3 separate regions of the Homo sapiens genome follow, and all the other regions are linked to region 3. Evidence: fine-mapped expression QTL. A gene starts in region 3. Each other region holds a variant in brackets. All regions are shown on one strand. Distances are between the middles of the regions.

Region 1 (2,646 bases), 31 kb before region 3:
TGCGCCACAACCACCCACAGCCCCTCATCTACCTGCCAGGAGGAAAACAGAAAGAGGGATTTCTGTGTATCCAGCCCCAGGGATGGGGAAGGGGAGGGGACTCCCCAGCAGGCCTGAGGCCAGAGATAGACCATGAGGACAAATGACATTTTCCATGAAGCCCCTGAGGTGGGAGCATGTGGCCACTGGGGAGGTGACAGGGGGTTCCCGGGAGATGAGGGCCCCAGGGACTGAGTGGACGCTACAGCGGCACCTCCAGTAATCCTGAGCAGGCTGCACGCAGGGCACGCCTGTCCCCACACCCTCTGTGTGCCTGGCGCCCCTTCACGCCACCCTCACCACAGGCCAGGCCTGGACGCAGCAGGTTGGTCAGGCCGGGACCCAACATTGATCCCTCCCTCTCTGTCTCCCTTGGGGACCCCAGCTCTGTAAGCCCCGTTTAGGGAGCCGTTTCAGAGAACTTTCTAGCTGGACGAACGCTTGAGGAAATCAAAGCTGGAGCTTCAAACAGCAGGAGAGCCAAGGCCAGCAAGAGGAGCTGGCCCTGTGGCCCATGTGCTGGGTGCCAGGGGCCAGAGGCCAGCGCTGCAGGCAGCATAGCTCAGGCCCTCCACAGAGCCCGCTGGGAGGCTCAGTCGTGGGCCAGGGAGGTCTGGGGACAGGAGGACTGACCCCAACAGGAACTGGAATCACGGTCTACTCTGCAGACCTCAACCCCGTGAAGGTGGGGTCAGGGGTCCAGATTCAGAGGATCTAAGAGGTCAGGGCTCTCACCAGCCAGGGGCCACCAGGCCCTGTGGGGACAGAGGCCAGAGGCCAACGCTGGCCTGGGCCACCAACCTCCCCTCTCACCAGGCAGGACCAGCTGTGCTAGGGTGCACAGCCTGGTGGGGGTTACTGCGAGGCTGCTATCTGCACTCCATGGCCCAGTGGCTTCCTGCAGAGCAGCCAGAGAAAACCCCCCACTTCCCTAGGTAGGACCCGACCCACTCTCTCAACAACCTTGACCCCAACTACTGGGAAGGAGCCAGGCCGGGGACCCCAGAGGCCCCACCCACCCTGAGATCCCCAAAGCTCCCTGCCTGGAGTACTATCCCTGCCCCTCCCTCGGGCTCACTCCTGACCACCTCGTGAGCCTGCACAGAATTGGCGCCTGGGGCCTTCCGGGGGCAGCCATGCCGTGCTGCAAGCCCCCAGGCTGGCACCTGAGCCCAGCACACAGGCAGTGCCCATGGATGGCAGAAGCAAAGCCCAGGTCCCCCC[G/T]AGAACACAGAGCTGGGGACAGAGAGGTGAGGAAGGGCAGGGGCTACAGATGGCCCCTGGGCCTAACAAATGGAATTTTATGCCAATTCATCATCTCCGGTGGGGGCGGGCGACCTTGGCTCTGGATAGAGCCACGCCAGGTTCCAAGTGGAGTTGCCAGCGGCCTGGACAGATGGGCACCACCATACCCTCTCAGAGGGGAAACTGAGGCTTGGGGAGGTGACTTGATGTGCCCTGAGGACCGCCAGGAGGCGCAGTGAGAGGAGGGCTGAGTCCCAGGTCTCGGGGCTCCTCTGCCTGGGCCTCGGCTCATGGCCAAGGACCAGGAGGGGGGCCCGGGAGGGTTGGGAGGCTCCGAGGCAGCGCTGCAAGGGCAACCCCAAGAAGGAGGGATGCCACGTGTGGCTGTCTTCCCGCCCCAGGTACGTCCACTGGAGAGGGGAGACCCACCTCGGCCAGCGCCGCCCATGCCGCGGCCTTTCTGCTGCTTCTGCTGCTGCAGGCCTCCGCGGCCGCGGCCCTTGGCCACCACCTCCTCCTTGACCATGTCGATGATCTCGTCGGGGATGCGCAGGTACTTGATGGTGCTGCCGCGGATGTAGCACTCGGGCATCCGCCAGAACTTGTCCCCGTCCTGCGGAGAAGGGGAGCAGGTTATTAACTTACCACCGGGCCGTCTGGCCCAGCCCTGGGAGCGCGGGAGGCCCTGCAGATCCTGCCCAGCCTGCACCCCGTACCACCCCTGCAAGCTGCACAGTATCAGTCCCGGGACATACGTGGCAAAGGGTCCACCCTGCAGGCAGGATCTGTCCTGACCCCAGGCAATCCTTCACCCAGGAGCAAGGGTGGGTGTGGTAGGCGCAGCCCCCATTGTGCACTCACAAGGAAGACTGGCTCCTATCCTCTGCCCGTGGGCCTGGCTCAGGAGTGGCTGACTGGGGCTCCCTCCAGCCTGGGATGGGGCTCTCTCTGGTTGGGGTTCTTCACCTGCAGCCCAAAGCCCAGAGCGGGTGGGGGCCTCCCTGTGCACCAGACACAGCCGAAGCCCAGCTACTCCTCCTCCTGCCCCAGCCCCACCTCACTTCTGGAAGCCTCTCTACATGCCCTGACTCATTCATTCATCTAAGTATCTCCTGACAGGGCCTGCGCTGGGTGCAGGGACATGCGAGCAAGCTACAGGCCTAGTGTGGTGGGTGAAGAGGGGCGGGAAATGGGGGGACTTGGGTCCTGCCAGGGTGGCTCAAGGGCGGCTCCCAGCGATGCCAGTTTTAGGAGAGCTAACCAAGACTGGAGAAATGGGGGCCTTGCAAAGACACAGACTCATGCTGCAATGCCTCCGAGGCCCCCACTGGGACAGATCGAGGGATTAGCAGGGGCCAGGGC
Region 2 (2,500 bases), 29 kb after region 3:
AGGGCTGGGCAGGGACAGGGGGTGGGGGCCGAAATCACAGCTTCCCCATCAGAGCCAGATGTGTGAAGGAAATGTCCCAGATGGCAGTAGTTTCTCGGCAAGGAGGGGAATCCTGGAGATGGTTCATGTCTGTGATCCCAGTGCTTTGGGAGGCTGAGGTGGGAGGATTGCTTGAGCCCGGGAGTTCGAGACCAGCCCTGGGCAACATGGCGAGACCCCATCTCTACAGAAATTAAAAAAAAAAATTAGCCAGTTGTGGTGTCAAGCACCTGTAGTCCCAGCTACTTGGGAGGCTGAGTTGGGAGGCTTATCTGAGCCCAGGAGGTGAAGGCTGCAATGAGCCATGATTACACTACTGTACCCCAGCCTGGGCAACAGAGCAAGACCCTGCCTCAAAATTAAGAAAAAAAAAAGGGGGGCCAGGCGCAGTGGCTTATGCCTGTTATCCCAGCACTTTGGGAGGCCAAGGCAGACTGATCGCTTGAGGCCAGGAGTTTGCGACCAGCCTGGCCAACATAGCAAAACCCCATCTCTACTAAAAATACAAAAATTAGTCAAGAGTGGATGGTGCGTGCCTGTAATCCCAGCTACCTGGGAGGCTGAGACAGGAGAATTGCTTGAACCTGGGAGGCAGAGGTTGCAGTGGTGTGAGATCACGCCACTGCATTCCAGACTGGGCAACATAGCAAGACTCTGTCACAAAAAAAAAAAAAAAAAAGAATTCCCTGCTCTGCTTTTCTGCTCGTTGCTGGCATAGAAACATCTAGAACAGAAAGTATCCACTCTGGGGCAGATGGGAGAGCTGGAAAAGTAGATTCAAGATGCCTTTTAGTCTTGGAAGTTTCTTCCAGGAAGCAAGACCAGCTGGTATGTTTACACCTGCACTCCAGTGCCCTGGGGAGGTGACCAGGTGGAGGGGGATGGCTCATGGAAATCTGTCCCGCACAGCTGGCCCCCTTTTGGCTGCCACTGTCTAGACTGTTGGCCTTTGACCTCTCTGCCTCTTGTGGCGTCTGAACCTAGACGTCCCTTTTGGAGACAGCTGGACAAAGCCCTATTCTCCGCAGCCCCAGCCTCTATCCTGAGGCCTCTGGGAGC[T/C]GCGTGACGGCCAGCATGGGGTGCTGATCATGGTCAAGGAGGCAGGTCTTTGCCAGGTTGCCCCATGCAGCCACCCATCCTCAGCATCCTAACTTGAGGGGGCAGGAGAGGGCTTTGTTTTTATAATCCGGATTAAATTTCCCTTCCCTGGGCACAAGTGCCTCATGAGGGCCCGGGGCTGCTGGTTGGGAGGGAAAGCATCCCCGTTTTTGCAGTGAGGAGGCCGGCCGAGGGCTGGGGTTCCACTTAGACCCTTGGCAGAATGGCTGTTGAGGGGCAGGCGCTGCCCAGTGCCCACGTCTGGAAAGCTAATTCCCGGGTGGACGCTGAACATACCTGCTGAGAGACTCTGTCCCCTGGTTTCCAGGACAGTTGTCACAAGCTGAGTGGGGGGGGACTCCCAGGACTTGAGGGACCCAGTCCCACCCCAAACTGCTCCCCCTCCCCCAAATTCCCTTTCTCCTCCTGCTCTTTCTCCCCGCTGTGCCTCCCCCAGTTACCCACAGAAGTGCCTGCCTCTCCAGCGCTCACAGAACACACAAAAAGGGACAGGAATTGGTCACTGGGTAGTGGCCGTGGCTCCTGACGATCCAGACCAGCGTCTGGCCCAAGCCATTCAGAGGTGGGGTCTGGGGCCTGGGGGTTTTGTGTCGTGACACTTTGTCTCAAGGAGATTCCACATAGGGATTTGAATTAGGCTTTCTGCTTGCCAAGGCCTGTGGCATCTGAGCCTGGCTGAGGGCCGGGCAAGCCTCCCCTGAGCCTTTGGAAGCCGAGTTCACTCTCTGCCTGCCCAGGGGAGCACCGGCTTGGTTCTGGGGGCTCCTCTAACATCTCAGGTTTTTATCTTGTCTTAAATTTCTTTCTAGGAAAAAACCCTTCCCTGCCAAAGGTGACTGTGTTTTCTGCCGCCGAAGGAGGGCCCGGTCCCTCCAGGCTCAGTGTGGCTTCTCCCTGACCCCCGCCCTAGAACTTTTGCCAGTGCCTTTTCTGAAACTCCTGTGTCCCGGGCCCCCCAGGCGGAGAAGGATATGCCGGATTCTGCCTGGGGCTGGGCTCTAGGAGACCCCAAATTTGACACCACAGAAAGCAAATAAAACACTTGAAATACGCATACATTTCCTGTGTGTCCTTTTGTGGGGCTGGAGTTCAGCTGGGTGCCCGGGGATAGAGGGGACCCCGTGTCACTGGGTTTCTATTCTCGGTGGTGCTGGGCCCAGGGCAGCTGGTGACCATGTGCTGAGTGAGCGAGAGGAGGGGAATTCTGCCTCCAGTGGTCTCCTTCCTCAAAATCAGAGGCCTGGCCCAGCGCAGTGGCTCACACCCGGAATCCCAGCACTTTGGGAGGCCGAGGTGGGTGAATCACCTCAGGTCAGGAGTTCCAGACCAGCCTGGCCAACAT
Region 3 (2,776 bases):
CCGGAGGCAGTGGTTCACGCCTGTAATCCCAGCACTTTGGGAGCTGAAAAGGGTGGATCACCTGAAGTCAGGAGTTCGAGACCAGCCTGGCCAACATGGTGAACCTCCCTCTCTACTAAAAATACAAAATTAGCTGGGTATGGCGGCACTCGCCTGTAATCCCAGCTACTTGGGAGGCTGAGGTGGGAGAATTGCTTGAACCCGGGAGGCAGAGGTTGCAGTGAGCCAAGATCACACCACTGCACTCCAGCCTGGGTGACAAGAGTGAAACTACGTCTCAAATAAATAAATACATATATAATTTCTGCTTAATAATACCTGGGGGACTAAATAATCTGTACAACAAACCCCATGACACGAGTTTATCTATATAACAAACCTGCACATGTACCCCAAAACTTAAAAGCTAAAAAAAATTAAAAATGATTTCTGGCCAGGTGTGCTGGTTTACACCTGTAATCCCAGCACTTTTGGGAGGCCAAGGTGTGCGGATTGCTTGAGCTCGGGAGTTCGAGACCAGCCTGTGCAACACTATGAAACCCCCATCTCTACAAAAATACAAAAATTAGCTGGGTGTGGTGCCACACACCTGTAGTCCCAGCTACTCAGGAGGCTGAGATGTGAGGATCAGTTGAGCCCTGGAGGTCAAAGTTACAGAGCTATGATTTTGCCACTGCACTCCAGCCTGGGTAACAGAGTGAGACCCTGTCTCCAAAAAAAAGAGAGAGAAAGGAAATTATTTCTGAGCTTTATTGCTATGAAGAGGATGGAACCAGGGAATGAGATGGAACCACTGGGGGGTAGCAGTGAGGTCATTTCAGCCAAGGAGGGCCAGAAGGAACCCTCAGAGGAGGTAATAGGATAGCAGGGAGGTGATAGCCAGAGAAGGCCACAAGGAGAAAGTGACAGTTCACCCCTCGGAGGAGGTGACAGCCAGGACAGGAGGAGGGCCCCTGGGAGGAGGCGACATTGGAACACTGGAGCTGAGGCCTGAAGGAGGCCAGCTTCGCAGGTACCTGCGGGGTGTGTTCCGGCAGAGGGAACAGCAGGTACAATCGCCCTCCCCCATTAGCCTCCTAGGACCATGGGGGCCTGCAGAGAAACTTCTGGCACCACACAAATATGGTTGTCGTGTTTTTCCTTTTTTACTCTGTCCTCCCCCACCCCCGCCAACTTCCTGGCCTGAATGCTGCTCCTGTGACCCCTTGAGGCGAGTGACCTCGGGGAAGTGGCATTCTGTGCCTCAGTTTCCTTATCTGGAAAACGGGCCTTGCTCGCGGGGACTTCCCTCCCTAATTCTGCGCAGTATGCATGCATAGGGCAGGCCCTCAATGAACCCTTGCAGAATAAAGGACCGGCTCATCCCCAGCACCTGGCTCAGTGCGTGCAAGCGGCTACACACTACGGCATAAGATGTTCCCATTTTGCAGACGGGGAAACGGAGGCTGGGGAATACCGGGCCTAGCCGACGGGGGCGGGGCGCAGGGCGCGCACGCTGCGTCTCGGGCCCGGGGGCGCGCACGCCGAGCGGCTGACCGGGGGCGAGGCCGGGGGCTTGACAGGGGCGTGGCCTCGCGCGGCCGAGAGGCTGCAGCGGCAGCAGCTGTCGCGCCAGTCGCAACAGAAGCAGGTCCGAGGCACAGCCCGATCCCGCCATGGAGCAGCCGAGGAAGGCGGTGGTAGTGACGGGTACGCTGGCTGATGGGGGCTGTAGCGGCAGCGGCCGGGGGCAGAGGCGGGGGCGGCTCCGGGACTGCGGGGCCGAGAGGGGCAGGTGCTGGAAGTCCTCTCAGATTTGGAAGGTGTCATCACCCGCGGGAGCCCCGCGCAGCCCAGGCTTCCTGGAAAGTGGAGGAGGAGGAGCCTTGGGGGTCCCAGGGTCGGGAGTCAGGGCAGTCGGGCGCGGGGCTTGGGGGGCCGGGCAAAAGCCCGGCGCTGCGCAGGCCCCCCTGGCGTCCTTTCCTCCCAAGGTGGGGATGGTGACCCTCCTGGCACCTGCCTCCTCTGTCTGGCCTGCGGGCTGGACTGGACCCTTCCTCCCTGCCCCTTCCGAGGTCCAGCCTGTCCCCACACCGCTCCCCCAACCCCTGGCCCCAGGGGACAAAGGCCGATTTGCGGGCAGGAAGTGTCCCAGTGACAAATGAACCTCCCAGTCACTGCTCGCCGCGCCCTGCGCTCCTGGGGGGCTACTCTCCCAAGGCAGGGGCAGGTGGGGGTCCGGGGACCTCGGGCTCTCCCAGCTGTCCCAGGGACTGTCTTCAGCGGAAACCTTTTTGTGTTTTGTGCCAGGGCTGTTTGTTGGTGAGTCAGGGCCCCTGCTGTCACCGACTCCCCCCCACCCCCAAACCAACTGTTTCTCCTCCCTGAGACTCCGCCTCGGGGCCACGTGGGGCGCCAACTTCCGCTGGGGCCTCAGAGTCAAGGAGTGGGGGGGTCATTTTGACCTGCTGTCTGGAGGGGTCAGAGTGGGAAATCCAGCAAAGGTGCACACAGGTGTTTTGTGGCTGTTGAAGGGAGATTGAGGCTGATCCAGGAGATTCAGGGAAGAAGGAAGAAACAAGGCACCTGCTTAACAGGTGTGTATAATTGGGAGGAGGGTCACTGCCCCCATCCCTTCCAGCCTTCCTTTATCTGGTTATTTATTCCAGCACTTTTTGCATGAGCTGATTACATCTTTACTGTCTCCATTTTGCAGAAAGGGAAACTGAGGCTCACAGAGGTCATCCAGTTTGTAAGGGGCTGAGCTGAGACTCAAACTTTGGCTGTACAGAAGGAT

What was found.
Region 1: its variant is fine-mapped to the expression of PGPEP1 in whole blood (TOPMed, PIP above 0.99).
Region 2: its variant is fine-mapped to the expression of PGPEP1 in whole blood (INTERVAL, PIP above 0.99).

Annotation. Positions count from the first base shown.
Region 1 is chr19:18,307,965-18,310,610 of GRCh38, forward strand. LSM4 (LSM4 homolog, U6 small nuclear RNA and mRNA degradation associated) reads right to left here. Exons shown (of 5, transcript NM_012321.5): 4 at 1,714-1,897. Among named protein-coding and RNA genes, the nearest start is that of LSM4, 14 kb to the right of the region's middle. The variant G/T (reference allele first, on the strand shown) is at 1,264.
Region 2 is chr19:18,367,739-18,370,238 of GRCh38, forward strand. PGPEP1 (pyroglutamyl-peptidase I) reads left to right here. Exons shown (of 5, transcript NM_017712.4): 5 at 1-2,212. Among named protein-coding and RNA genes, the nearest start is that of GDF15, 17 kb to the right of the region's middle. The variant T/C (reference allele first, on the strand shown) is at 1,099.
Region 3 is chr19:18,339,027-18,341,802 of GRCh38, forward strand. It overlaps PGPEP1 (pyroglutamyl-peptidase I), which reads left to right and starts at 1,572. Exons shown (of 5, transcript NM_017712.4): 1 at 1,572-1,689. The coding sequence starts at 1,656. RefSeq lists a silencer at 1,421-1,610 and an enhancer at 1,442-2,129.